Linked DNA regions of Homo sapiens: region 2 is reported to be linked to region 1. Evidence: microRNA targets listed by miRTarBase, many of them from high-throughput screens and not tested one by one. Region 1 holds a microRNA gene; the other region holds the end of a gene's coding sequence.
Evidence for each region. The annotated mature microRNA hsa-miR-4320 reads GGGAUUCUGUAGCUUCCU and lies in region 1 at 2,141-2,158, opposite strand. An mRNA with a match to its seed (bases 2 to 7 or 8) in the 3' UTR can be bound and repressed. Matches are read on the target gene's strand: a 7mer-m8 pairs with bases 2 to 8, a 7mer-A1 pairs with bases 2 to 7 and ends in A, and an 8mer does both.

Region 1 (5,222 bases):
GAGTTGGTACACCTTTTCCCATGCACATGGTCCCATCACTCTCCTTCAACTCATGGGGTAGCGGCATTCCTATTATGGGAGTCATCGTTCTGCTCTTCTATTAAATGGATTAGGGAAAGTGTGATTGTCTACTTCAAGTTGTTTTCAAGTGAATGTTAAAAAGAAAAAAAAGAAAACAACAACAACAAAAAACTTTTGAAGAATAATACCCTGTAACTAGAAAATGCTTTGGAACCAGAAGGAAAGACATGTATAGCCTGCATAGAATCCCTGTGCAAATCCCTCATCTGGAATATGCATAAACCTGCTGTGAGCAAAGTGAAATCTTTCCCCCCTGGTGCCCTTCCTATCAGTAACTCCACATCACTGCTTGCAATTGACACATCTCTCCCCCCGCCCCACCCCGCTTGATCATTTTGAAAAGTATATGTTATTTTTAAGCGTCAACTTATTTCAGGAATGTGTACAGTCTTTCTTAATAAACTGCAGATAACAACATAAGAATTGGGAAGCCCCACTTTAATTTCCCCAGACTGGGAGAGGACAGAGGCTGCAAGGATCAATAAAGAGACTACAGTATGGAAACCAGACTCAAATCAAGGACTGGATATAAGCAGCTGGAGCAGAAGTCTTCAGAAACCAAGCCCACCCTGACTCCTAGCCCTACTTTTGGGGAGCCTGCCACAGATGGTACCCCTGCTGACTGCAAGGCCTGGCACAAGCCCCAGGGTCTCCAAGCCATTTGAATGGTATTGAACAGAGCGCAAACCTACCTTTACAGCTTCTCTTTCTCAAGGGCACTATGCTGCACACCTTTCTAAATATCAAACTGAACAATGAATGTTAAGAGATGCATCAATGGATGAAGCTGGAAACCATCATTCCGAGCAAACTGTCGCAAGGAAAGAAAACCAAACACCGCATGTTCTCACTCATGGTGGGAATTGAACAATGAGAACACTTGGACACAGGGTGGGGAACATCACACACCGGACCCTGTTGTGGGGTGGGGGGAGGGGGAAGGGATAGCATTAGGAGATATACCTAATGTAAATGACGAGTTAATGGGTGCAGCACACCAACATGGCACATTTATACATATGTAACAAACCTGCACGTTGTGTACATGTAACCTACAACTTAAAGTATAATAGTAATAATAATAAAAAGAAAGAAAAGTCTTATTTAGCAAACACTCATATATAGTGCTTGCTATGTGTCAGGAACAGTTCAAATACTAGGTTATTCAATCTTCAAAATGACCCTATGATGATTCAGCAATTCTACTTCTAGGAATGTAACTGAGAGAATCAACAGCAGGAATTCAAACAGATAGCTGTATACCAAGTTCACAGACACATTCATCACAATAGACAAAAGGTAGACACAACCCAAATATTCACAGATCAGTGGATCAACAAGCAGACTATCCATACAATTCATTATTATTAGCCTTAAAAGGGAAGGAAATTCTAACACATACTATCACATGGATGAACCTTCAGGATGCTATGCTAAGAGAAATAAGCCAGAAAAGGACAAGACTGTATGACTCCACTTACATGAGGGACCTAGAAGAGGCAAATCCATAGAGACAGAAAGTAGACTGGTGGGTGCCAGGGGCTGCGAGGAAGGGGTTACTGTTTAATGGGTGCAGAGATTCTGTTTAGGATAATGAAAAAGTTCTTGGATGGTGGTCGTGATTGCACACAATGTGAACGTACTTAATGCCACTGAACTGTATACTGAAAAATGGTGAAAATATGGTTAAAATGGTAAATTGTTATGTGTATTTTACCACAACTAAAAAATGTTTAAAAGTTAAAAAACAGTAAATTTTACTTATATTTTACCATAATAAAAACAAACAACCCTGAAACAGGGAAACAGGTCCTTTACTATAATGCTTATTTTCCAGATGTGGGCACCCCTGGCCAGACCAAACACCACACTGGACACTAGAGACACAGTAGTGAACAAAACAGCCTCTAGCCCTGCCCTGATAGAACCTGCATTCCACTGGGGAGACACATCAACCATCTTTTAATTCAATTAAGGCAGAGACCACAAAGTGAAGAATGGAGCTAAGAGGGCAAATCACAGGGGACCACAAAGTGGGGGCTGTCAGGGCAAAGTTGCCAGGAAGCTACAGAATCCCGAGTTATCTGAAATGTCTACAGCAAACCCCACATGTCACTCTGGTGAGCAAAGGCCTTGACAAGTCAAGAGCTTGCACACATTCCTGCTCTCAATTCATACGTGGTCCAAGCTCTAGCAAACTCCCTAGTGAACAGCAGTCATGCGTGAATCATCTCCAGGACCTGATCAAATGGGTCTCAGAACAGCAGCACAGCTCTCCAAGCCTCCAATGCATTTTCACACCATCTTCTAGCACACTATGGCAGTGAAGAGCATGCATGGTGAAGCCAGACTTCCTGGGCTTGAATCCCAGCCCTGCTGCTCTCTGGCTCTGTAACCTTGGGCAAGTTACTAGATCTCTGAATCTCAGCATCTCATTGTAAAATAGGGTTATTAAATGAGCTGACATACAGGAAGTTTTTACAATTCATTGGTTAGTGTCACAGAAAAAAGCAAGTTTTTAAAAAGTATTTTTTAGAACAATCCTTGCCACATAGAGAGTTAGCTGTTATTCTCATAATCATTATTACCTTATTCCAACCTCATAAGACCCAAGAGGCAGGTGGGGCAAGATCAAACTGCCCCCAGTTAACATAGGCAATTGAGGCAAAGGAAGAGCAAGTTGCTTGAGTTTACATTGCTAGTTAGAGCCCCCTACTCTTCCCACCACACTGTGGCACTTACGATAATTCAAAAGCATTTGATGAAAATTTCTAGCATCTCAACCATATTTGGGCACCTATTATATACCAGATACTGGCCATCCTTTCTTCTAGTGCCTGTAGGAACCAAGAACCCAGGTTCTCCAAGCCCATCATCTTGGTCTGTAATCCCAGCAGCCAAGTTTTGAACGCTTCACTTTATCTACTGGAAAACTGGGCTAAGAGAACAAGCTTTTACTGAGCACCTACAACAGATGCAGTGCTCTACATTACAGGGAAGACAAGAGTGGTCAAACTCATGGTATCTGCCACCCTTCACACCTGGTAGAGGAGGTAAGGAGTCCTCAGCTGAAAGAGAACAATGGAGGGGCAGGTACCACTAATTGCTGAGCCCTGGTGGAGCGCATAAAAGGTAGAGGAATCCAGCTAAGCCAGTCAAGTGTAAGTTGATGTAATCAGGGAAAACCTCACGGAAGAGGTGGGATTTAGGTGGGGCTTTAAAGATTGCTTACTGGGATGATCAATTTTATGTGTCAACTTATGTGGCCACTGGGTGCCCACACATTTGGCCAAGCACTATTCTGGGTGTGTCCATGAAGCTGTTTCTAGATGAGGTTAACATCTGAGTCAGTCGACTGAGTAAAGCAGGTTGCCCTCCCCACTGCGGGTGGGCCTCATGCAATCAGTTGAAAACCCAATTAGAACAAAAAGTCTGGGTAAAAGGGAACCCTGCCTGTTTGAGCTGGGACACTGCTATTTTTCCCACCTTCAGACTCAAACTGAGACATGAGCTCTTTCCAGGTCTCAAGCCTGCTGGCTTTTGGAACTTACACCACTGACTCTGCTGGTTCTCAGGCCTTTGGACTCAGCCTGGAACTACACCATCAGCTCTCCTGGGTTTCCAGCTTGCTGAATGCAGATCTTAGGACCTGTTGGCCTCTGTAATTGTGTGAGTAATTCCATAATATATAAATATGTGTATTTCCTATAGTTATCTTTCTCTAGAGAATCCTAATACACTACTATTGGTTTGGCAGAGAGTAAAAGGGGAGGAAAGCTTCCAGAAGTCTAAGAAATTGAATGAAAAGCGAAGATGTGAAAAAATGAGAGAATAGGAAGGCCATGAGAAAATGGCTTTGAAGGGGGAGAGAGAACAAACAGGAATGAGGACTGTGAGGTGCAACAGCTGATCTGAGAACAGCTGATGGATTCTGAACATGACCCTCCACACAGGTAGATGGGGTGCCTGTGATCTTGAGAATCACACAAAAGCAGAGTTTAGGAGAAGTGATCCCACATGGATAAGCGTAGAAAAGCCTGGAGCCCAGGAGGCCAGCAGCATATACCTGTCCAGGTAGGAGAAGACATGTGGGGTGCGATAGCAGCGCCTAGCTCAGTGACAGGAAGTCTCTCGTGCCTTGAGAACAGAGGACTCTCACACTCCCTTGGATTTATCAACAGCTCGGAGAGCAGTTCTGCACCCTGCCCAGGTACAAAGGCCAAAGAGCCCAGGGAGAAGGCCACGTGCCAGCACCTAAGAATCCGAGATCCTTTACACATCCCCAGTCTGTCACTCAAGCCCTCCGGGTCTCAGTTTCCCTCCCTGTGACATGCGTACCAGAAGGAATGTGAGGATAAAATGTGAAAGAACATTGGAGGAGGAAGTGGCCCAGTGAGAAGGGGGAAACCACCTTCCACCAGAAACTGCTTTGGTGTGAAGCCTCAGAATACCCAATCAGCGGCTGCCGGCTGGAAAAGCAGGCTTTTTATTGACAAACCCGCAGAGGATCACCTTCACAAAACACACCCAGGGCCTAATTAAAATCACAGAAGAACCACCTGCCAAATCTCACGGTAAGTCACTGCTTAATGCAGGGCTGTCAGAGCCGGCTCAGGAGAATGAGGTGGCAGGGAATGCTCAGTGATGTGAAAGGAGCCCAGGCCAGGCCCCACGGTGGTGGGAGCATGGCCTGATGGACGGAGAGGGATGGAGGGCTGGGCCCAAGCAGGACTGTGGAGAGGGCAGGGACTTCCCAGTACAGCAATTCCTGGAGCTGGAGCTAGAGCTTATCTCACATTTACAATCCCATAGACTCCAGCAAATGCTGTCCACACAGCACACTTACCACAAACCCAGGGCATCCCTTTCTCCTCAAGGGAACTTCAACAGACAAGCTTCTGCCCTATATTAATTGTCATGCCACCAATGTAACTAAAACACCATATATATTCCATGAAAGGAAACAGGAAATGAACTCCGATAAGGCAGAAAACTCAAATCACTGGAGCTCTTGTCCAGCATTCTGATTTAAGGAATGCAGGCAAATGATCCACGAGCTAATACCAGAGATGTGATCATAACAGCTGTACTTACAGACACCTCACCATACGCCAGCCCATTTCCTAGAGCCTTTCTGTAGT
Region 2 (5,222 bases), not on the chromosome of region 1:
GTCTTACCCCGTCAACATAGCTGGACTGCTGTGGCGCGATCACAGCTCATTGCAGCCTCGGCCTCCCCCCGAGCTCAGGCAATCTTCTCACCTCAGCCTTCAGAGTAGCTGGAACTACAGGCATGCACCACTGCACCTGGCTTTTATTTTTTGTAGAAACAGGGTCTCACTATATTGCCAGGGCTGAACATAACTTTTATATGCACTGAAAAACCAAAAAATTTGTGTGACTCGTTTTATTGAGATGACTTCTTTATTGTAGTGCTGCAGTCTGGGACCAAGCCCGTAGTCCCTGTGAGGTATGCCTCTATTTCCTACCACAACCAGCAGTAACTTTCAAGTCACCATTTAGATAATCAGAACTCTAACTCATCCTGTAGATGGATGCTTTGCTTCTTAGGGTACCAAAGAGACAGTGAGACTCTGTCTCAGAAAAAGAAAAAAAAAAAGATAAAAACAAAAGACAACTTACATGTGGGAGACACCATGCTAGGCATCTCAAACACACATTGCCTGGGCACGGTGGCTCATTCCTGTAATCCCAGCACTTTGAGTGGCTGAGGCGGGTGGGTCACTTGAGGTCAGGAGTTCGAGTCCAGCCTGGCCAACATGGTAAAACCCCATCTCTACCAAAAATATAAAAAATTAGCCAGGTGTGATGGCACACGCCTGTAATCCCATCTACTCGGGAGGCTGAGGCAGGAGAATCACTTGAACCCAGGAGGCGGAAGTTGCAGTGAGCTGAGATCCTGCCACTGCACTCCAGCCTGGGGGACAGAACAAGACTCCATTAAAAAAAAAAAAAAAAAAAAAAAAAGTAGGCCGGGCACAGTGGCTCACGCCTGTAATCCCAGCACTTTGGGAGGCCGAGGCAGGCGGATCACGAGGTCAGGAGATCAAGACCATACTGGCTAACACAGTGAAACCCCGTCTCTACTAAAAAATACAAAAAACTAGCCGGGCATGGTGGCGCGTGCCTGTAGTCCCAGCTACTCGGGAGGCTGATGCAGAAGAATGGCGTGAACCCGGGAGGCATAGCTTGCAGTGAGTCAAGATTGCGCCACTGAACTCCAGCCTGGGCAACAGAGTGAGACTCCATCTCAAAAAAAAAAGTAAAATAAACAGGGCGCGGTGGCTCCCGCCTGTAATCCTAGCACTTTGGGAGGCCAAGGTAGGCGCATCACCTGAGGTCAGGAGTTTGAGACCAGCCTGGCCAACACAGTGAAACCCCGTCTCTACTACAAATACAAAAAAATCAGCCAGGCATAGTGGTGGGCGCCTGTAATTCCAGCTACTTGGGAGGCTCTGTCTCCAAAACCAAACAAACAAAAAAACCCCACAAATTTTAAAAAAACAAGCTGGTGGCACTGTACATATAGGAAAATTAGTCTAGCTGATTCAAGAGTAAAATTCATACATATACAAACATAAAGAAAAATCTACTGCATTCCTGTTGTCACTGGCAATGCTCATTTGCTATAGAAACAGGGAATGTAAAGAGTGTATCAAAACAAAGGTACAGCAGCCGGGCGCGGTGACTCACGCCTGTAATCCCACCACTTTGGGAGGCTGAGGCGGGCAGCTCATGAGGTCAGGAGATCGAGACCATCCTGGCTAACACGGTGAAACCCCGTCTCTACTAAAAATACAAAAAATTAGCCGGGCATGGTGGTGGGTGCCTGTACTCCCAGCTACTCAGGAGGCTGAGGCAGGAGAATGGCGTGAACTCGGGAGGCAGCTTGCAGTGAGCCGAGATCGCGCTACTGCACTCCAGCCTGGGCAACAGAGCAAGACTCCGTCTCAAAAAAACAAAAAACAAAGGTACAGCAGATTAAGAGAAATAACACATAATACTACATGGTGACTTGATGGTAGATTATATTGGTAGGTTGACAATCAGTATGGACAAAAACAATCAACAAGCATTAGGATACTATCTCTAGTCCCAGTTTTATAGTCACCGTCTATTTCACAACTTTTCTGGAACTTGGCTTTCTCATCTATAAAATGGCAGTGAGGCCGGGCGCAGTGGATCATGCCTGTAATCCCAGCACTTTGGAAGGCCAAGGCGGGTGGATGAACTGAGGTCAGGAGTTTGAGACCAGCCTGGCTAACATGGTGAAGCCCTGTCTCTACTAAAAATACAAAAAAATTAGCCGGGCATGGTGGCGGGCACCTTTAGTCCCAGCTACTGGGGAGGCTGAGGCAGGAGAATGGCGTGAACCCGGGAGGTGGAGCTTGCCGTGAGCCAAGATTGCGCCACTGCACTCCAGCCTGGGCGACAGAGCAAGACTCCGTCTGAAAAAAAAACAAAAACAAAAACAAAAACTGTAGTGGTTGGGCATGGGGTCTAACACCTGAAACCCCAACACTTTGGGAGGCCAAGACAAGGGACTGAGGCCAGAAGTTCGAGACCAAACTGGTCAACATGGTGAGACCCCACCTCTAATTTAAAAATAATAAAAATTTGGCCGGGCACAGTGGCTCAAGCCTGTAATCTCAGCACTTTGGGAGGCCAAGGCAGGCAGATCACCTGAGGTCGGGAGGTGGAGACCAGCCTGACCAACATAGAGAAACCCCTTCTCTACTAAAAATACAGAATTAGCCAGGTATGATGGTAGATGCTTGTAATCCCAGCTTTTCCGGAGGCTGAGGGAGGAGAATCAGTTGAACCCGGGAGGCGGAGGTTGCAGTGAGCTGAGATCATGTCATTGGTCTCCAGTTGGGGCAACAAGAGCGAAACTCCATCTCAAAAATAAACATTTTTAAAAAATTAAAAAGGGGCTGGGCATAGTGGCTCACGCCTGTAAACCCAGCACATTGGGAGGCTAAGGCAGATAGATCACTTAAGATCAGGGGTTTGAGCCCGGCCTGGACAATATGGCGAAACACTCTCTATAAAAAATACAAGAATTAGCTGTGGTGGCATGCACCTGCGGTTCTAGCTACTCACGAGGCTGAGCAGGGAGGATCTCTTAAGACCTGGAGGTGGAGGTTGCAGTGAGCCAAGATCACACCATTGCACCACTCCAGACTAGGCAACAGAGGCATAACCTCTTTCAAAAAGACCTAAGACGGGAGGCTGAGGCAGGAGAATGGCGTGAACCCGGGAGGCGGAGCTTGCAGTGAGCCAAGATTGTGCCACTGCACTACAGCCTGGGAGACGGAATGATGCTCCATCTCAAAAAACCACCACCAAAAGAAACCCTAAGAAACAAAAATTAAAATAATAAAGACTGTAGTGACCTGTATATTTAAGGTTCTGAGGATGGATATATATAGATATTTTCTGTCCCTCAATATTCTTGAATAGGCCAGGCGTGGTGGCTCATGCCGTAATCCCTGCACTTTGGGAGGCTGAGGCGGGTGGATCACCTAAGGTCAGGAGTTCGAGACCAGCCTGGCATACGTGATAAAACCCTGTCTCGACTAAAAATAGAAAAAAAATTAGCTGGGCGTGGTGGCATGCACCTATGACCCCCCAGCTACTCAGGAGGCTGAGGTTGCAGTGAGCTGAAATTGCACCACTACACTCCAGCCTGGGCAACAAGAGGAAAACTCCGTCTCAAAAAAAAAATCCTTGAATAAGGAACGAAAACTTTATTTTAGGTTAGGGAGTATTTACTTATGATAAGTGCAGGCTAGAATGGTTCAGTGTTTTATCAGCAACAAAGGCAAAATCAGAACTTTTTCCTTGCCACATGTGCTACCCTATACCCTATGCTCCGTGCCTCACTTAATATACAGAAAATACCTGGAAATCCACGATACTATGGCCCAATTTTTCTGCTAGTATACTTGCATATTAACATGGGACCTAGAGAAACTTTTGGAACAAGGTGATATTTATAAAACTGTTATTCTTTGTTTGGCATCAGTATCAGTCTGTCAGAAACACCAAGTAGCTTTATTTCCTTCTTGAAATGTTACTTCTAAGCAGGCCTATTTATGTTTTTTCTAAGCCTCAATTTTCTATTTAATATTTCTCAGAATAAAGAAAACAGCTCATTTTAAACAAGAAGTTTATTTAAACAACAAGACGCTTGACTTGAAGGGAAAACTATCTAGGATTCTTTTTTGTTTTAGAGTAATTTATCCCTACTTAAAGACAGATTGCCCTACATGTAACAGCTACGTACAAAAAAGTTATAAAATTGTCCTTGGTTTTACAATGATAAATGAAAAACATTAAAATTCTCCAATTGAACAAGGTATGCAAGGATTTTTATGTTGTTGTTTTTTTTTTTTGTTAAAACAGTGAGAGCAAAATAACTTACTGGAATATAAAGATAAGAGCTGAATGAGCATGCCACTAATGGAGAAAGGGGGTATTTTCACAGAATCAGTATTTTTCCCCATCCCGTCTCCACTTGATGTCAATCAAAACATACCATTGGCTGTTTAGTTAAAAAAAAAAAAAATGCAATATGCTTGTGCACATATACCAGTTACTTTATGTACAATAAAGGAATGGGGAAGGGGGAAATGAAAGAATAGAGAAAACTATACGGTAGTAGTCAGGATGTGGTGGAACCAAATTGCAGTTTTCTAATTGAGAATGTAATCTTGGTCTTTAAAGAACAGAGTTCTGGAGTAAAGAAGCAGGTTCCCTTTTCAGTAGACACCTCCCGTCTGCTGTTGGAACACATCAATTGTATCTTCATCCTCCATTTCCAACTAGCATAAAAGAAAAAACAAATGTAAAAGCACTGATTAAGTTCTGAAAATTAATGATTTTTGGGTTTAAGTATGCTGAAAACATGTACATGTTCCACTAAGTTCCAAGTTTCATTATTTTAGATGTCTCATAGCTTAATGTATCAACACACTTGGTTTAAGTAATTTTTCACTTGGCTTCCTTTTTTATGACTATTAGATAAAACTTTTTTGTTTTTTTTTTGAGACAGGATTTCTGTCACCCAGGCTGGACTGCAGTGGCGTGATCTCAGCTCACTGCAACGTCCACCCCTCAGGTTCAAGCAATTCTCCTGCCTCAGTCTCCCAAGTAGCTGAGATTACAGGCATCCGCCACCATGCCCAGCTAATTTTTTTGTATTTTTAGTAGAGATGGGGTTTCGTCATGTTGGCCAGGCTGGTCTCAAACTCCTGAGCTCAAGTGATCTGCCTGCCTCGGCCTCCCAAAGTGCTGGGATTACAGGTGTGAGCCACTGCGCCCAGCCAAAACTTAGTTTTTGAGTAAAAAGCAGAATATTAGCCAGGTG

Region 2: miRTarBase lists SUMO2 as a target of hsa-miR-4320. Seed matches in the 3' UTR shown: 7mer-m8 at 4,068-4,074.

What each region holds. Positions count from the first base shown.
Region 1 is chr18:50,124,369-50,129,590 of GRCh38, forward strand. MIR4320 (microRNA 4320) reads right to left here and starts at 2,195; the gene lies at 2,131-2,195. All of the region lies in intron 1 of MYO5B (myosin VB), which reads right to left. RefSeq lists an enhancer at 2,989-4,188 and a silencer at 4,531-4,590.
Region 2 is chr17:75,163,725-75,168,946 of GRCh38, forward strand. SUMO2 (small ubiquitin like modifier 2) reads right to left here. Exons shown (of 4, transcript NM_006937.4): 4 at 1,862-4,677. The coding sequence ends at 4,615. Among named protein-coding and RNA genes, the nearest start is that of JPT1, 12 kb to the left of the region's middle.